3 separate regions of the Homo sapiens genome follow, and regions 1 and 2 are each linked to region 3. The links come from fine-mapping of genetic effects on gene expression. A gene starts in region 3. Each other region holds a variant in brackets. All regions are shown on one strand. Distances are between the middles of the regions.

Region 1 (4,228 bases), 54 kb before region 3:
GATTTTTAAGGAGAATAAGCTCTTCAGTACCCCTGTACACACACACACACACACACACACACACACACACACACACACACACACACACACACACACACTCTCTCTCTCTCTCTCTCTCTCTCTCTCTCTCTCTCTCTCTCTTTCCCTATCAGCTGGAATTCCCCACCACACTAAGGCTCTCTTGCAACACTGGCTCTCCACCTCTACTTTCGCTATTCAGTTTTATTGTCAAACCTCGGATGAAAGAGAACCAGTGGCGGCCAGTGTTAAAGAGAAGAACTCAGCTTTCCCTGTTAACAGAGGCCCTTGTGCATCTGGTGGTCATAGCACTCCTCACATTCCTTAATTGACCCTCACCCCAGATCGCTGGAGCAGGGATGTGGCGGACATTGACTCTTTTGTCTGCTGAGGGTAATAGTCAACCTTCTTCTGGGAGATGTTCCTTCTTCCCACCATAACCACATGGCTCTAAAGAGAGCTGCCATGATCTAACAGACTCTCCCCACGTGGCCACCACTGATTGGTCAGAGCTGGGCACCTGACCCTATTGGGGCCAATTAGAGCCCTTCCCTGGGATTTCTGGGCTTGAGAGGAAGCAGCACATTCTTCCCCTGGAGGGTCCTTGCTTGTGGAAGAGCCAGGCTAGAGTAGGAGGAGTTGAATTCAGACAGAGGCGGAGATGAGCACTGGAGAGGGAGCCTGGCTTTGTCCCAGGTGTATCTGGAGGCCCAGGTATGCCCTGCACCCTTCCTCCATGATGGGAGCCTCACTAATACATAGACCACATTCCATCCTGTCTGCATACCCGACACATGGAAAAGGCTGGACACTCCCTACATCTCATGATTAGCCAGTGAATGAAACGAAAAGGGCCGAGTGATACTTCATCAGCATTGCAGTTTTTCTCACGGTCCTCTCTGTCTTTATGTTTCCATCTATGGGATGTAGTAAATCAGAACCAAACATGTTGAGCAGCATTCATTTTAACAGGCGTCTTCAAGAGACTGTCTACGTGATTAGCAAATACCATCTGCCCGCCTAATGAAATCAGAACAGCCAGTGTTTTCCATCCTCAACTCAGGGATTAAAGAGGAAAAGCCGGTGTAAGCAGGTCACCTGGGTTAGCGTAGCTGTGGAGAGGTGCGCTGAGCAGATTGCACAGCTCAGCCCCGCCCGAGTTAAGAGGAGTCAGGACACAACCCCAGATGCCAAAGGAAAAGAAAGGAAGCAAGACAGAAAGGAGAAAAAGAGAGAGACAGACAGAGAGAAAGAGAGAAAGAGAAAGAAAGAAAGAAAGAAAGAAAGAAAGAAAGAGTCTATATTTTACTTCCTGAACAGCTCATTTTATAATACATAAATAATTCAAGACAAAATAAATTGGTTAGAAAATAATAATGTTTGTCCACTCTATGGCTACGGCTATACGAGGAGCAGAAATAGGAAACCTGTGTATGTTTTGCCAAAAGAGAATCTGTTTGCTCATTTAAACTTTTTCCTTCTGATTATAAAACATACACATTCTTTTATGGATAACTTTCAAAATAAGGGAAAATACAAAGTGTGTGGGGCAGGCATCACTGAGCGTAGGGAGAGGGCGTGGTCATTCTCTGCTCACGCCCACCCCGGTGAGGGCTGTGTCTGGGTGACTGGCAGGGTTGGGGGTGCTTCTGGAACCCACTGAGGGGGCTTTTGGGAAGGGGATGCAACGGGGAAGAGAGCTTGGTTCTCAATAATCTATCAGCTTTTGGAACAGCAACGTTCGTTTCCTTAGGCTGTGTTAGTTTCCTAAAACTGTCCTTTAAAAAGTACCCCAAACTGGGTGGCTTAACATGACAGAAATTTATTCTTTCACAGTTCTGGAGGCCGGAAGTCCAAAATCAAGACGCTGGCAGGGCTGTGCTCTCTGAAGCCTCCAGAAAAGATTTCTC[T/C]TGGCTTCTTCCTAGCTTCTAGTGGTTGCCAGCAAGCATTAGCATTCCTTGGCTTGCAGCTGCATCTCTCGAATCTTCTGTTTCTCGAAATCGCTCGAATCTCTGCTTCTGTTTCCTTGTGGCGTTCTTCCCTGTGTGACTATCTCTGGGTATCTTGGATAGTCATATTGGATTAAGGGTCCATCCTGCACAACTATGACCCTGACCTAACTTAACTAATTACAGCTGAGTGTGGTGACTCACACCTGTAATCCCAGCACTTTGGGAGGCCAAGGAGGGCAGATCACTTGAGGTCGGGAGTTTGAGAGCAGCCTGGGGTCTCAAACTCCCGACTCCTGAGGTCTTTGCAGTAACTGGTACTCAAGGGAAATGCTGAAGAAAAAAGGCGGCCGGGCGCGGTGGCTCACACCTGTAATCCCAGCACTATGGGAGGCTGAGGTGGGTGGGTCACTTGAGGTCAGGAGTTCGAGACATGCCTGGCCAACATGGTGAAACCCCATCTCTACTAAAAATACAAAAATTAGCCAGGCATGGTGGCATGTGCCTATAATCCCAACTACTCAGGAAGCTGAGGCAGGAGAATCGCTTGAACCCAAGAGGTGGAGTTTTCAGTGAGCAAAGATGGCGCCACTGCACTCTAGCCTGGGTGATAGAGCAAGACTCTGTCTCAGTAATAATAATGATAATTTAACTAATTACATGCACCACGATCTTCTTTTCAAATAAGTTCATAGTCTGAAGTTCCAGGAAAGACATGAGTTCTTGGGACACAATTTCAGTCCATGCAGCCTCTCTTACCCACACAAACCTCCCTGGCACTGTGGAGTGGAGGGCAGCATGGCCCCATCACGGAGAAAGTCTCCTCCGGGTGGTGGGGAGTGTTCTGCTGAGACCCTACCAGGCTCTGCGGAAGCCAGGGCAGATCCACAGTGGCAGTGGCCTCCGCCGGAACATTTGGCCATTGCTGTTCTAGAATACCACAGGAAGTTCTGGCCTTGGCTCCAGAGGCAACAGGCCTCAGGGGCCCACCCTGTGAGCCCCAAAAAGCAGTCTAGGTCCTAGGGGGTGGTTCCAGTGGGCCACCAGAGGCAGTGGCTTCGGTGGGGCTGTGTTCTCGATCTTTTAGAAGCCCTCACAGCACTGTGCACTCCCTTCACAATACCGACAACAATTCCAAGGAATAAATAACCATGAAGTTAGTTCTTTAGTGTCTGTCTCAGCAATAGGATGACCAGCTGTCTGCTAAGTGGGGCCACCAACTTGTCTAGTTTGTGCTAGGCCAGATTTGCTTCAGCACCGAAAGTACCACATCCCAGAAACCCCCTCAATTCCCAGCAAACCAGGACAGCTGGTCACCCTCCTTAGCAGACAGATGGGAATCTCATGTGCAGAGCCACGGTGTCTATCTAATCCACTCTATCTCCTGTGTTCCTGTTTGTCAATGGTACCTTGCACAGAACATGCATCCAATAAATATTTGCTGAACAACAATCATAATAATGATTATCTGCAATGCTCAGTAAATATTTGCCAAATGAATGCCCCCTGCCAGTAAATAAAGAATTCTCTTCAGCATTTTAATATGTTACCGATAAATGACACCAACTGGATTTACAGACTCATCCAGGAAGCAAAGAGATTTTTGTCCAAGTAGAAAATGCCAAGTAGGGTAAGTTTAGCAGCATTCAATCCTCTAACAAAAGATCAGCAAATGTCCTAGAGAGGTTGGGTCTGATTTCCTGAATCCGTCTTTAAGTGGAGATTATGGATTTCCAGATCCTCTCAGATAGGAGGGGCCAAAGCAGGAGGGACAACTGCTGGACAGCCGTAGCGGTGGGAACGAGAGCTTGCATTGCACATCCCAACACAGCAGTCTCACAAACCTTCCCTTGGATGGGATACACTAGACTGTAGACATGGAGGGATGGTGTGCTTCTCTGTTTTTTTGAAAATGAGTCTCACTCTGTTGCCCAGGCTGGAGTGCAGTGGCGCAATCTCAGCTCACTGCAACCTCCACCTCCCAGGTTCAAGCTAGTCTCTTGCCTCAGCCTCCCAAGTTGCTGGAATTACAGGCATGTGCCACCATGCCTGGCTAACTTTTGTATTTTTAGTAGAGATGGGGGTTTCACCACGTTGGCCAGGTTGGTCTCGAACTCCTGGCCTCCAGTGATCTGCCCGCCTCAGCCTCCCAAAGTGTTGGGATTACAGGCGTGAGCCCCTGTGCCCAGCCTGATGTGCTTTCCTTGCCTTGCCTTTCCTCTTTCTTTCTTTCCCTCCCTCCCTCCCTCCCTCCCTTCTTT
Region 2 (4,228 bases), 28 kb after region 3:
ACTAATCATATCTTTACCCTAATCTACTATTTAATTGCTTTTTACATTCTTAATTTCAATTATGCTGTATTTCTAAAATTTTTGATTCTTTATTGATTCTAGTTCTGTAATAAAGTTCCTCATTTGTCATTATTTGCTTTTACATATTAGTTATTTTAAAGCTTGATCGTTCTAATTTCTGGATCTTCTGGGGATGTTTTCTATTTTCTGTTTTTCTCTTGGCCCTGTCTCCTGATACATCTGGTAATTTTTGGAATGCTAGACATTGTGTATGAAAATTGAAGTAGCACTAGATTGTGTTATCTTGTCCAGGGAGGATTTAGTTTGCTTCTGGCAGACAGAGTGGGACAGAAGATTGCAGTCTAGGTTGTAGTTTTTATAAGATCTGGCCTCTTTCTGGCCTGTCTTGTAGGATATAGCCCTTTTGGCTTCCTATAGAAATATGGCCTGGGCAGATCATGAATACCACTTTTGTCTCCTTAACCCAAGCTTATCCAACCCCTGGCCTGCGGGCCACATGAGGCCCAGGATGACTTTGAATGCAGCCCAACACAAATTTGTAGACTTTCTTAAAATATTTTGAGATGCGCGCGCGCGCGCGCGCGTGTGTGTGTGTGTGTGTGTTTTCAGCCAGTGTTAGTGTTAGTATATTTTATGTGTGGCCCAAGACAATTCTTCTTCCATTGAGGTCCAGGGAAGCCAAAAGATTGGATACCCCTCCCTGCAAACCCTCGAGAGTATGACCAACTCTGCTTAGCTCCTCCTACCCTTCACTACTGCTCTCTGCTTGGTTTCTCAGCACCCAGCCTTACTCAGCAAATGCCCTTAGGGAAAGCCATGAGAATGGAAGCTTATCTCAGGATTTCCGCCTTCTTTCTGGAATACAATCAGGCCTGCAAGTCCTGGTCGTCTTGGAAACTGGATGCCTCCAAATGGATATTTAGGGAAAAAAAGTATTCAGTTGTTCTCAGGGGAAAAGTGCCTCTGATTGAAGCCAGTTTCTCAGAGCTGAAAGTGAGAGTCCCTGTCATTTGCCTTTTTACTTTCTTTACACTGTTTTGCTGAGAAGGTTTAAATTTTTATACAGTCAGATGTATCTATTTCTTTATGGTTTCCGGCCTTGCTCTATTGCTTCAAAATGCTGTTTCTAAGCCAGGTTTATAGAAATAGTCATCTACATTTTTTTTAGTGGTTTTTTTTTTTTTTTGAGATGGAGTCTCATTCGGTTGCCCAGGCTGGAGTGCAGTGGCACCATGTGGGCTCCCTGCAACCTCCCCCTCCCAGTTTCAAGCAATTCTCCTGCCTCAGCCTCCTGAGTAGCTGGGACAACAGGTGCGTGCCACCATGCCTGGCTAATTTTTTTTGTACTTTTGGTAGAGACAGGATTTCACCATATTGGCCAGGCTAGTCTCGAACGCCTGACCTCTTGATCTGCCACCCTTGGCCTCCCAGAGTGCTGTCCCGCACCGAGCCTTTTTAGTGTTTTTATGATTGAATATTTAATGATTCATTTCAGCCTGAGATGTGAGATAAAGATCCAACCTTATTTTTTTTCCGTATGACTGGGACTTTTGTCCAGAACTATTAATGAATTCATCTTTTGTGAAGATCTGAAATGTAATATTTATTGTTAAGCATATGGTGTCTCATTAATATTTTAATTTACATTATTTTGCTTACTAGTAAGATTATGTATATTTTACATGTATTTACTGGCTTTTTGCTATTTTTTGGTTTTTCTACTCATTCCTTTACCCTTGAAAAATTGTACTCTTGGTGTATTTATGCTGATATTCAATATAATATTTCTGTTTAAATCATTCTGTGAATGTCACTAATCTTGATTGCTTTTTCATTTTTCTTTCAATTTTACTTATAATTTTGATATAAGGGAATATTGTATTTATATAGTAACTTACATTGTATATTTATTGTTATCTTATTATTTTTAGCTTTTGAATCTCTTTTCTCCATCAGTAAACTATTTTAGGATATAAGTATGTATGTATGTATGTATATATATTATACCCTTGACTTTTTAGTCCTTTTGTATTATCTTTTGATTTTATGGTGTGTGTGTGTGTGTGTGTGTGTGTTTACTGCTCAGTAATCAACTTTTCCAGCAATGTTGGTTGAGTCATCCATCACTGCCCAGATTGCTCCTTTAACACATGTTCCCCTTTAAAGACAGGGTCTTATTTTGGGCCATCTGCTTTATTTTCTTCTCACCAATTTGTGGGAAAACTTTATTCTTGTTAGTATTCTACTTTCCTTGTCTCTTATTTTTGTTAAACAGAGCATATATGTGATAGAAAATAGAATCCTGGCTGGGCGCGGTGGCGCCCATGCCTGTAATCCCAGCACTTTGGGAGGCCAGGGCGGGCGGATCACCTGAGGTCAGGAGTTTAAGACTAGCCTGGCCAACATGGTGAAACCCCATCTCTAC[TAA/T]AAAAAAAAAAAAAAAAAAAAAAAAATTAGGTGGACGTGGTGGCGGCTGTAATCCCAGCTACTTGGAAGGCTGAGCATGAGAATCGCTTGAACCCGGGAGGTGGAGGTTGCAATGAGCTGAGCTGAGATTGCACCACTGCACTCCAGCCTGGGCAACAGAGTGAGACTCTGTCAAAAAAAAAAAAAGAAGAAGAAAAAGAAAAGAAAATAGAATCCTGCAGATGAGCTTGCAGTGAGAGACCCCAGGCTTCTTGGCCACCTGTCTGCTCCTCAGAGCTGTCTCTTGCCACTGTTCCCACTTTCATTTCATCTGGCAGTCCCCTCCCTGCCAGTTGCAACCTGCTCATCATAGCTACTCTTGGTTTGTCCATTTGAGGCAGTGGAGATGATTGTGTGCAATGGTAGTGGAGTTTTTTGCTGACTTGCCCTTTTCACCCCTCTGATCAGACCCATCCACCCATCCTTTTTCATATGTATTCTTTTAGTTTCTTATATATGTTATTTCAACCCCAGTTCCTTCTCCATCAATTCTAGCTGGTATTTCCTGACTTCTCCTCTGTTAGGTAAGGACCTTCCTAACCTTTTCCCACCACCCCGTATCCACCCCTCATATTGTCTTCGCTAGCTTTCCACTTACGAGACTAGTAACATTTTCTTGGATCTTAATTATGCTTATTATTTCAACTTTATCTATAGTTTGATTCTAAAAGTAGAAAACAACTAACCCTTATATTATAACACTACAGCTATTATTAGTTGAGTCAACTGGCATAATAGGACTCTCTTTTTTTCTGTGCAGTAACATATTTTAAATTATTATCGCAGATAATATATTTTGCTCTGTTTACTTTTTTTTAAAGCATTAGCTATTAACTCTTTTAAGAAAAAACAAAATAAAGCAAAAACCTGTACCATCAATGAATGTACGACCCCATCTGCAATGACAGAATACTTTCCTCCCCTTTAGACACTGGATATTTGAGTGGGGAGCTTCTCAAAGGGGTCATCTACACATTTGTTGTATGACATTTACTTTTTAGTGCCTTAACTTGCCTTGTACTGTACCTCACCTCTGTCTCAGTCGACACCCTACCCTGCTCATCCCAACCCCACCCTGGGTCAACCTCCTGTTCACCATGACTCCAGCCCAACTCCTCCAACCCTAGCTCACCTCCAGAGCTCTGAGTCTTCACCTCTCCAGCCTCTCTCCAACCTCTTCTCCTCCCGGGCAGGGGGGCTAACATCAGACCCCGACTCAATGACCCACTCACTCCCCAACCCCTCACCCTGGCTCAACTTCCCTGACCCTGGCTCACCTGGATCCCCATTCCAGCACAACCCCCACCCCTCTCAACTCACTTACCCTCACCCCCTCATGAACCCTCTGCCATTTAAGGATAGTTCATCTCCTTTTCTGCTGCAAGACTACTCTTGGCTGTTGAGCTACAGTTTTTTCAGACCCAAGGCCTGTGCTGTCTCTGAGCCGAATTCTGGTCCCGTGGCAAGGCAGAACCTGTCCCAGAGTCTCTGCAGTGAGCAAAGCCTAGAGACTCAACAGCGAGGAGTAACCACATGTGGGAGCTGTCAGCTCACGGGGATTTTCTCTCCTCTCCAAGGGCAGGAATTCTCTTCATTGTCACAGACCTATTCCTTATTTAAAGCTTTTTTTCACTCTTATTCAGGGAGGGATGTTTAAAGAGATCATGTATTTATTGATTGATTGATCTCCAATACTGCAGAAAATATGCATTTTAAAAACACACATCCTTCTTTTTTTTTT
Region 3 (4,228 bases):
TCGCCTACGGGAGGCCAGAAAAGGCTGCGTGGTGCTCCCCTCTCAGGGCCTGGCCCTGTCCACCTGGGCCTTGGTGACCCGCAGCCGGGACTCTTGCTGTAAAGTGACGCAGTGCTCTCCCTGGGAGGACAGTGGGTCCAGCAAACCCAACTCAGCCCTCAGGGGGCACTTGAAATTGTAACTACCCCAGGCCTTTGGAAACAACCCTCAACCTTGAAAGGGGAAATTCCCAGTGGGAATTGATGCAAACTGTGGTCAGTTACACAAAAAGGTAGAGTTTACTGTAATCTGGGGGCTATTTTTGGTTGCAGAAAGAATCCCCGGAGTAGAGAAGGAGGCCAGCGAGTCTCAGTTCGCTGCTCGCTCAGAGCCGCCCAGGTGCGAGGGCGTCTTCACCAGAAATCGGTGCTCCCGCGCGCCCCACCCTCCGGGGCCCTGCAGATGCCGGGTCGGGGGCCGCCAGCAGGCCCTTTGGCTCCTGCTGGAGACACTGGAAGACCAGGCGACCAGGACAGCGGGTCGGGCCAGTGCGGTGTGACACGAGGGCTCGAGCGGCTTCGCAGTTTAAACGTGTCCTCATCCTACACCTCCCACGGCTGTTTCGGATTCGGTGCCCTCGTGCCCCTCAGCTTGCCCAGCGGCACGTGGGCCTCAAGCCTGGTCCCCAGCGGCTGCGCCAGCCTAGCTGTGTTCACCTTGGGGCCGCGAGGGCCTCCCACCGGCTGGCAGCTGGTGGACACGCTGTCAAGATCGGGGGAAAAAAAGGAAGGAAGGAGGCTAGGGGGACACAGGGCTGGTGGCCTCCGCAGTCTTTGACCTGCGACGGGCGCGAGCGCACCTCCGCGCCTTTGCGCAGAGACCTTCCCCCAAGATTGGCTCACGACGCCTCCTACCCCGAAGTCAAGGGCTCCCTGTGGCAAATCCTCACACGCCCTCCTCCTCCCCGCCCATCCCCGGCGCCAGGACTGACGGGGAGAGGGCAAGGCCGGGCCAGAGGGGCTGTGGGCCTGGACTGCGGCTGTCGCCCGCGGCCCTGCTCTTTTGGGCAGCCAGACGTGGGGTCAGCGCCCAGTCGCAGCCTCCGGGGGTGAGTCCGCAGATCCCCGCACGTGACACAGGCCAGGCATGGGGACGGGGAGTTCCTCGTCGTCCGTTCCCACTCAGATGCTCCCTGAGGTTCCGGAACACCCCGCCCCCCATCCCAGGATCTGACCAACCCTCAAGCCACGGCCGGCCCCGGTTCCGCGAGACGGGGGACTCTGAGGATTGTCCTCCCTTCCGGGCTGGGACTCCCCCACAGCAGCCGACCGCCCCCAGTTCAGAGTGGCCCGGCCCGCAGCGCTCCCCGGGCACAGGTCCCAGGTGGACGGCTCCGCTCCCGCGCCCGGCTCCTCTGCCCGCCAAGCGCCCCGGGGATTCCCCGGCCTCCAAGCGGCCGCGGCCGGGTGGAGTCAGCCCCGAAGCCCGGGATCCCCCGAAGGGAGAAAACCCGCTCTGCTCCTCTGAAGCGGCGGGAGAAACCGGCCCCACCCAGGTCCGGGGGCCCGACGCCCTCGGCGGAGGCCGGCTCCAGGGGTCCGAGGTTCCCGAAGCTGGAGGCCGGCTCCGCCCCGGCGTCCCCCCGCCGCCACCTCCGCCCCCATCCCGCGGGCCGGCGGAGGGAGGGGCGGGGCCGCTTGCCGCCCGCGACTCGGGTTCGGCTTCTTTAGTGATTGCTTCTGCTTCTCCCGCGCCAGCTGTCCCCAGCTCTGGGGCAACGCTGCCAGGTGCCCAGTCCCCGCGCTCGAGAGAGCGCCTGCCTGGCTCTGAACTCTGGCCAGGAAGGGGCGCGAGGGGAAGGCCCCGGGGGAAGGCGTGTCCCCGCGCCCCGCCCCGCCCCGCCTCGGAAAGCCCCCGCGGTCCCGCCCACCCCAGGGGCTCGCTCAGCCTCCGGAGACTTTTTTCTTTGAGCGCAGCCGCCTGGTGCCGGTTTCCGCCGAGCTGGAGCGCGCGGGCCACGGCTTCTCTGGGGACGCAGAAGCGAGAAGCGGGGACCTCGGCGCGCGCCCCGCGTCCCGCTCTTCCTGCCCGCGCCCCGGCCCCCGGCCCGCGCCCCGGCCGCCGGCATGGTGCTGCTGGCCGGGACCGGGCCGGAGGGCGGCGGGGCGCGCTGCATGACCCCACCACCGCCGTCCCCACCCCGGGGCGCGCAGGTCGAGGAGGACCCCGCTGACTACGAAGAGTTTGAGGACTTCTCGAGTCTGCCAGACACCCGCAGCATCGCCTCGGACGACTCTTTCTACCCTTTCGAGGACGAGGAGGAGCACGGCGTCGAGAGCGCGGAGAGCGTCCCGGAGGGCGTCCCGGAAAGCGTCCCGGAGACGGCGACCCTCCTGCGCGCCGCCTGCGCCAACAACGTGGGGCTGCTGCGGACGCTGGTGCGGCGCGGGGTGAGCGTCGAGGAGGCGCAGGAGACTGACCGCAACGGCAGGGTAAGCGGGCGTCCCCGCAGGATTTGAGCCCCCTCACTGCCCCCACTCCCCTCCTCCCCACCACATCCCCGCGCCTCCCAGCTCCTGGCTCCGGACCGGTCCCTCGGTCACTCAGCCGCCGCCCAGAGCGCCTTTTCCCCGCTGTTTGGGAGCGCGGTGCCCTGGGTGGCTTCCCCGTCTCAGGCTGGGGGACGCGGTGCGGGGAGGGAGCAGTCGAGGTGTCAGCGCGGCAGAAACGCCAGTCCGGCGTCCTCACCGCATCCCCTTCTCGTTTACCGGTCCCCGTGGACCTCCTGACTGAATTCGCGCTGGCTGCCCGTGCTGCAATCCAGGATGGGCTTCTTGCGGCCCGGTCCCCTCCTGACTATTACCTTTCCCCAGGTCCCTGGCAGGGGACCATTCCTCCTCCCCTGCAGGAGACAGCCCCTCCTGCCCAGCGCCCCATTTGGCCCCTGGGCCCCTCGCGCCGCCCTTGTCCTAACACGCTGGGGCGCAGATCGGCTCCTCCAGCCGCAATGATTTGGAAGCAACAGTTTCTTCCCTCGCCGGGACAGCTTGGTCCCCTACCCCACCTCCGCTGAGCTTTGTGGCCCGCGCCGCGACCAGCCAACGTGATCTCTGACTGGTCTGTCCGCAGGTCACCTTCGCGAGCCAATGCCAGCCGGGGCTCCCCAGAGTCAGGGCATAGGGAGAGCCCCAGAGCCGCGGGCATCCACCCGGGTAGGGCAGGAGGCGTGGAGGCAGGCACAGGCTATCCTTTCGTTATGACCAGATTCAGAGAAAACGAGATGTTTAGAAAAGAAAAGAAAAGAAAGGAAAAGAAAAAAAGTTGGCTTAAGAAGACCTGAGAAGGACTGGCTGGTGGAACACCTTCCACCAAGCAAAGCACTTCAAGGGAAAACTGCAGAGTGACCACGGTGGCCAAGTTCCCCGTAGTCTGTGCTCAGTGGGCAAATGGCAGCGTTCTCACCTGATTTTTGTATTGTCCAAGGACCGTGGTATCTGCAGATGCAGCCTAGCACAAATGCACATGCTTTTTGCTCAGGAGCCTGCAGCTGACAGAAAACATGTGCTTTGACTTGGGGACCCGGGTGACCTTGTGCCTTTGGTTTATCCTGCAGTGGGTGGGGCAAGTGGTTTGCCCTGACTGTGGTTTGGGCTGGGCTTAGGTGGATGGGAAGCCCTCCAATGTCACTCTCCCCTTGTACTACATTGCCCCCGTGATTCAATTACCTCCCACCGTGTCCCTCCCACAACACGTGGGAATTCAAGATGAGATTTGGGTGGGGACACAGCCAAACCATATCACACAACATTTGAACTTGGAGGAAGGGTCTGTGCTTGTCATATGTTAGGCAGTGAGACCTGAGGTGGCGTCCCCGTAGGTAGCATCACCTGGAGCCCTGTAGTTCCTGCTGCCATTCCTCTTGCAATGCCTCCTCCCCCAGCCCTGGCGACAGATGCCCTGGCTGGCATGTGATTAGGGCTTGGAGCTCCACCCGAAGTCCTAGGGCCTGTTTCTCAAGTTCTACATTTGGTTTAACTGAGTTTTCAGGCCCAGATGTGTGTAATCAGAAACCTTGCTTTCTGGAAGCCAGTATGGGGGCCCGCTTTAAAGGAAGCCTCACCAAGCTCATAAAGGAACAGGTGGGGTGGGCCTCTCCCCCTGTCCTGGGCAGCCTGGTGGTCTCCAGTGGGCTGGAATGGGCACAGGAGGGGCCTGGCTCGCCCAGTCCCCACTCTAGGGCACCACTGGG

Alleles and levels. Positions count from the first base shown, and alleles are read on the strand shown. Sizes are in standard deviations (SD) of each study's normalised expression. Not every link is listed here.
For the expression in skeletal muscle of the gene that starts at base 1,708 in region 3, allele TAA in region 2 goes with a higher level than allele T (moderate effect, 0.73 SD a copy in FUSION).

What was found. PIP is the estimated chance that this variant, and not a neighbour inherited with it, causes the effect.
Region 1: its variant is the best candidate, but not a certain one, in a credible set for the expression of ANKRD33B in whole blood (TOPMed, PIP 0.88).
Region 2: its variant is the best candidate, but not a certain one, in a credible set for the expression of ANKRD33B in skeletal muscle (FUSION, PIP 0.85).

The regions. Positions count from the first base shown.
Region 1 is chr5:10,508,700-10,512,927 of GRCh38, forward strand. The region is part of intron 1 of LINC02213 (long intergenic non-protein coding RNA 2213); the gene reads right to left. Among named protein-coding and RNA genes, the nearest start is that of LINC02212, 8.1 kb to the left of the region's middle. The variant T/C (reference allele first, on the strand shown) is at 1,929.
Region 2 is chr5:10,590,004-10,594,231 of GRCh38, forward strand. The region is part of intron 1 of ANKRD33B (ankyrin repeat domain 33B); the gene reads left to right. Among named protein-coding and RNA genes, the nearest start is that of ANKRD33B, 28 kb to the left of the region's middle. The variant TAA/T (reference allele first, on the strand shown) is at 2,447.
Region 3 is chr5:10,562,363-10,566,590 of GRCh38, forward strand. It overlaps ANKRD33B (ankyrin repeat domain 33B), which reads left to right and starts at 1,708. Exons shown (of 4, transcript NM_001164440.2): 1 at 1,708-2,471. The coding sequence starts at 2,106. RefSeq lists silencers at 1,292-2,151, 2,492-2,541, 3,512-3,561 and enhancers at 1,771-2,665, 2,666-3,559, 2,682-2,891, 3,212-3,261, 3,282-3,371 and 1 more.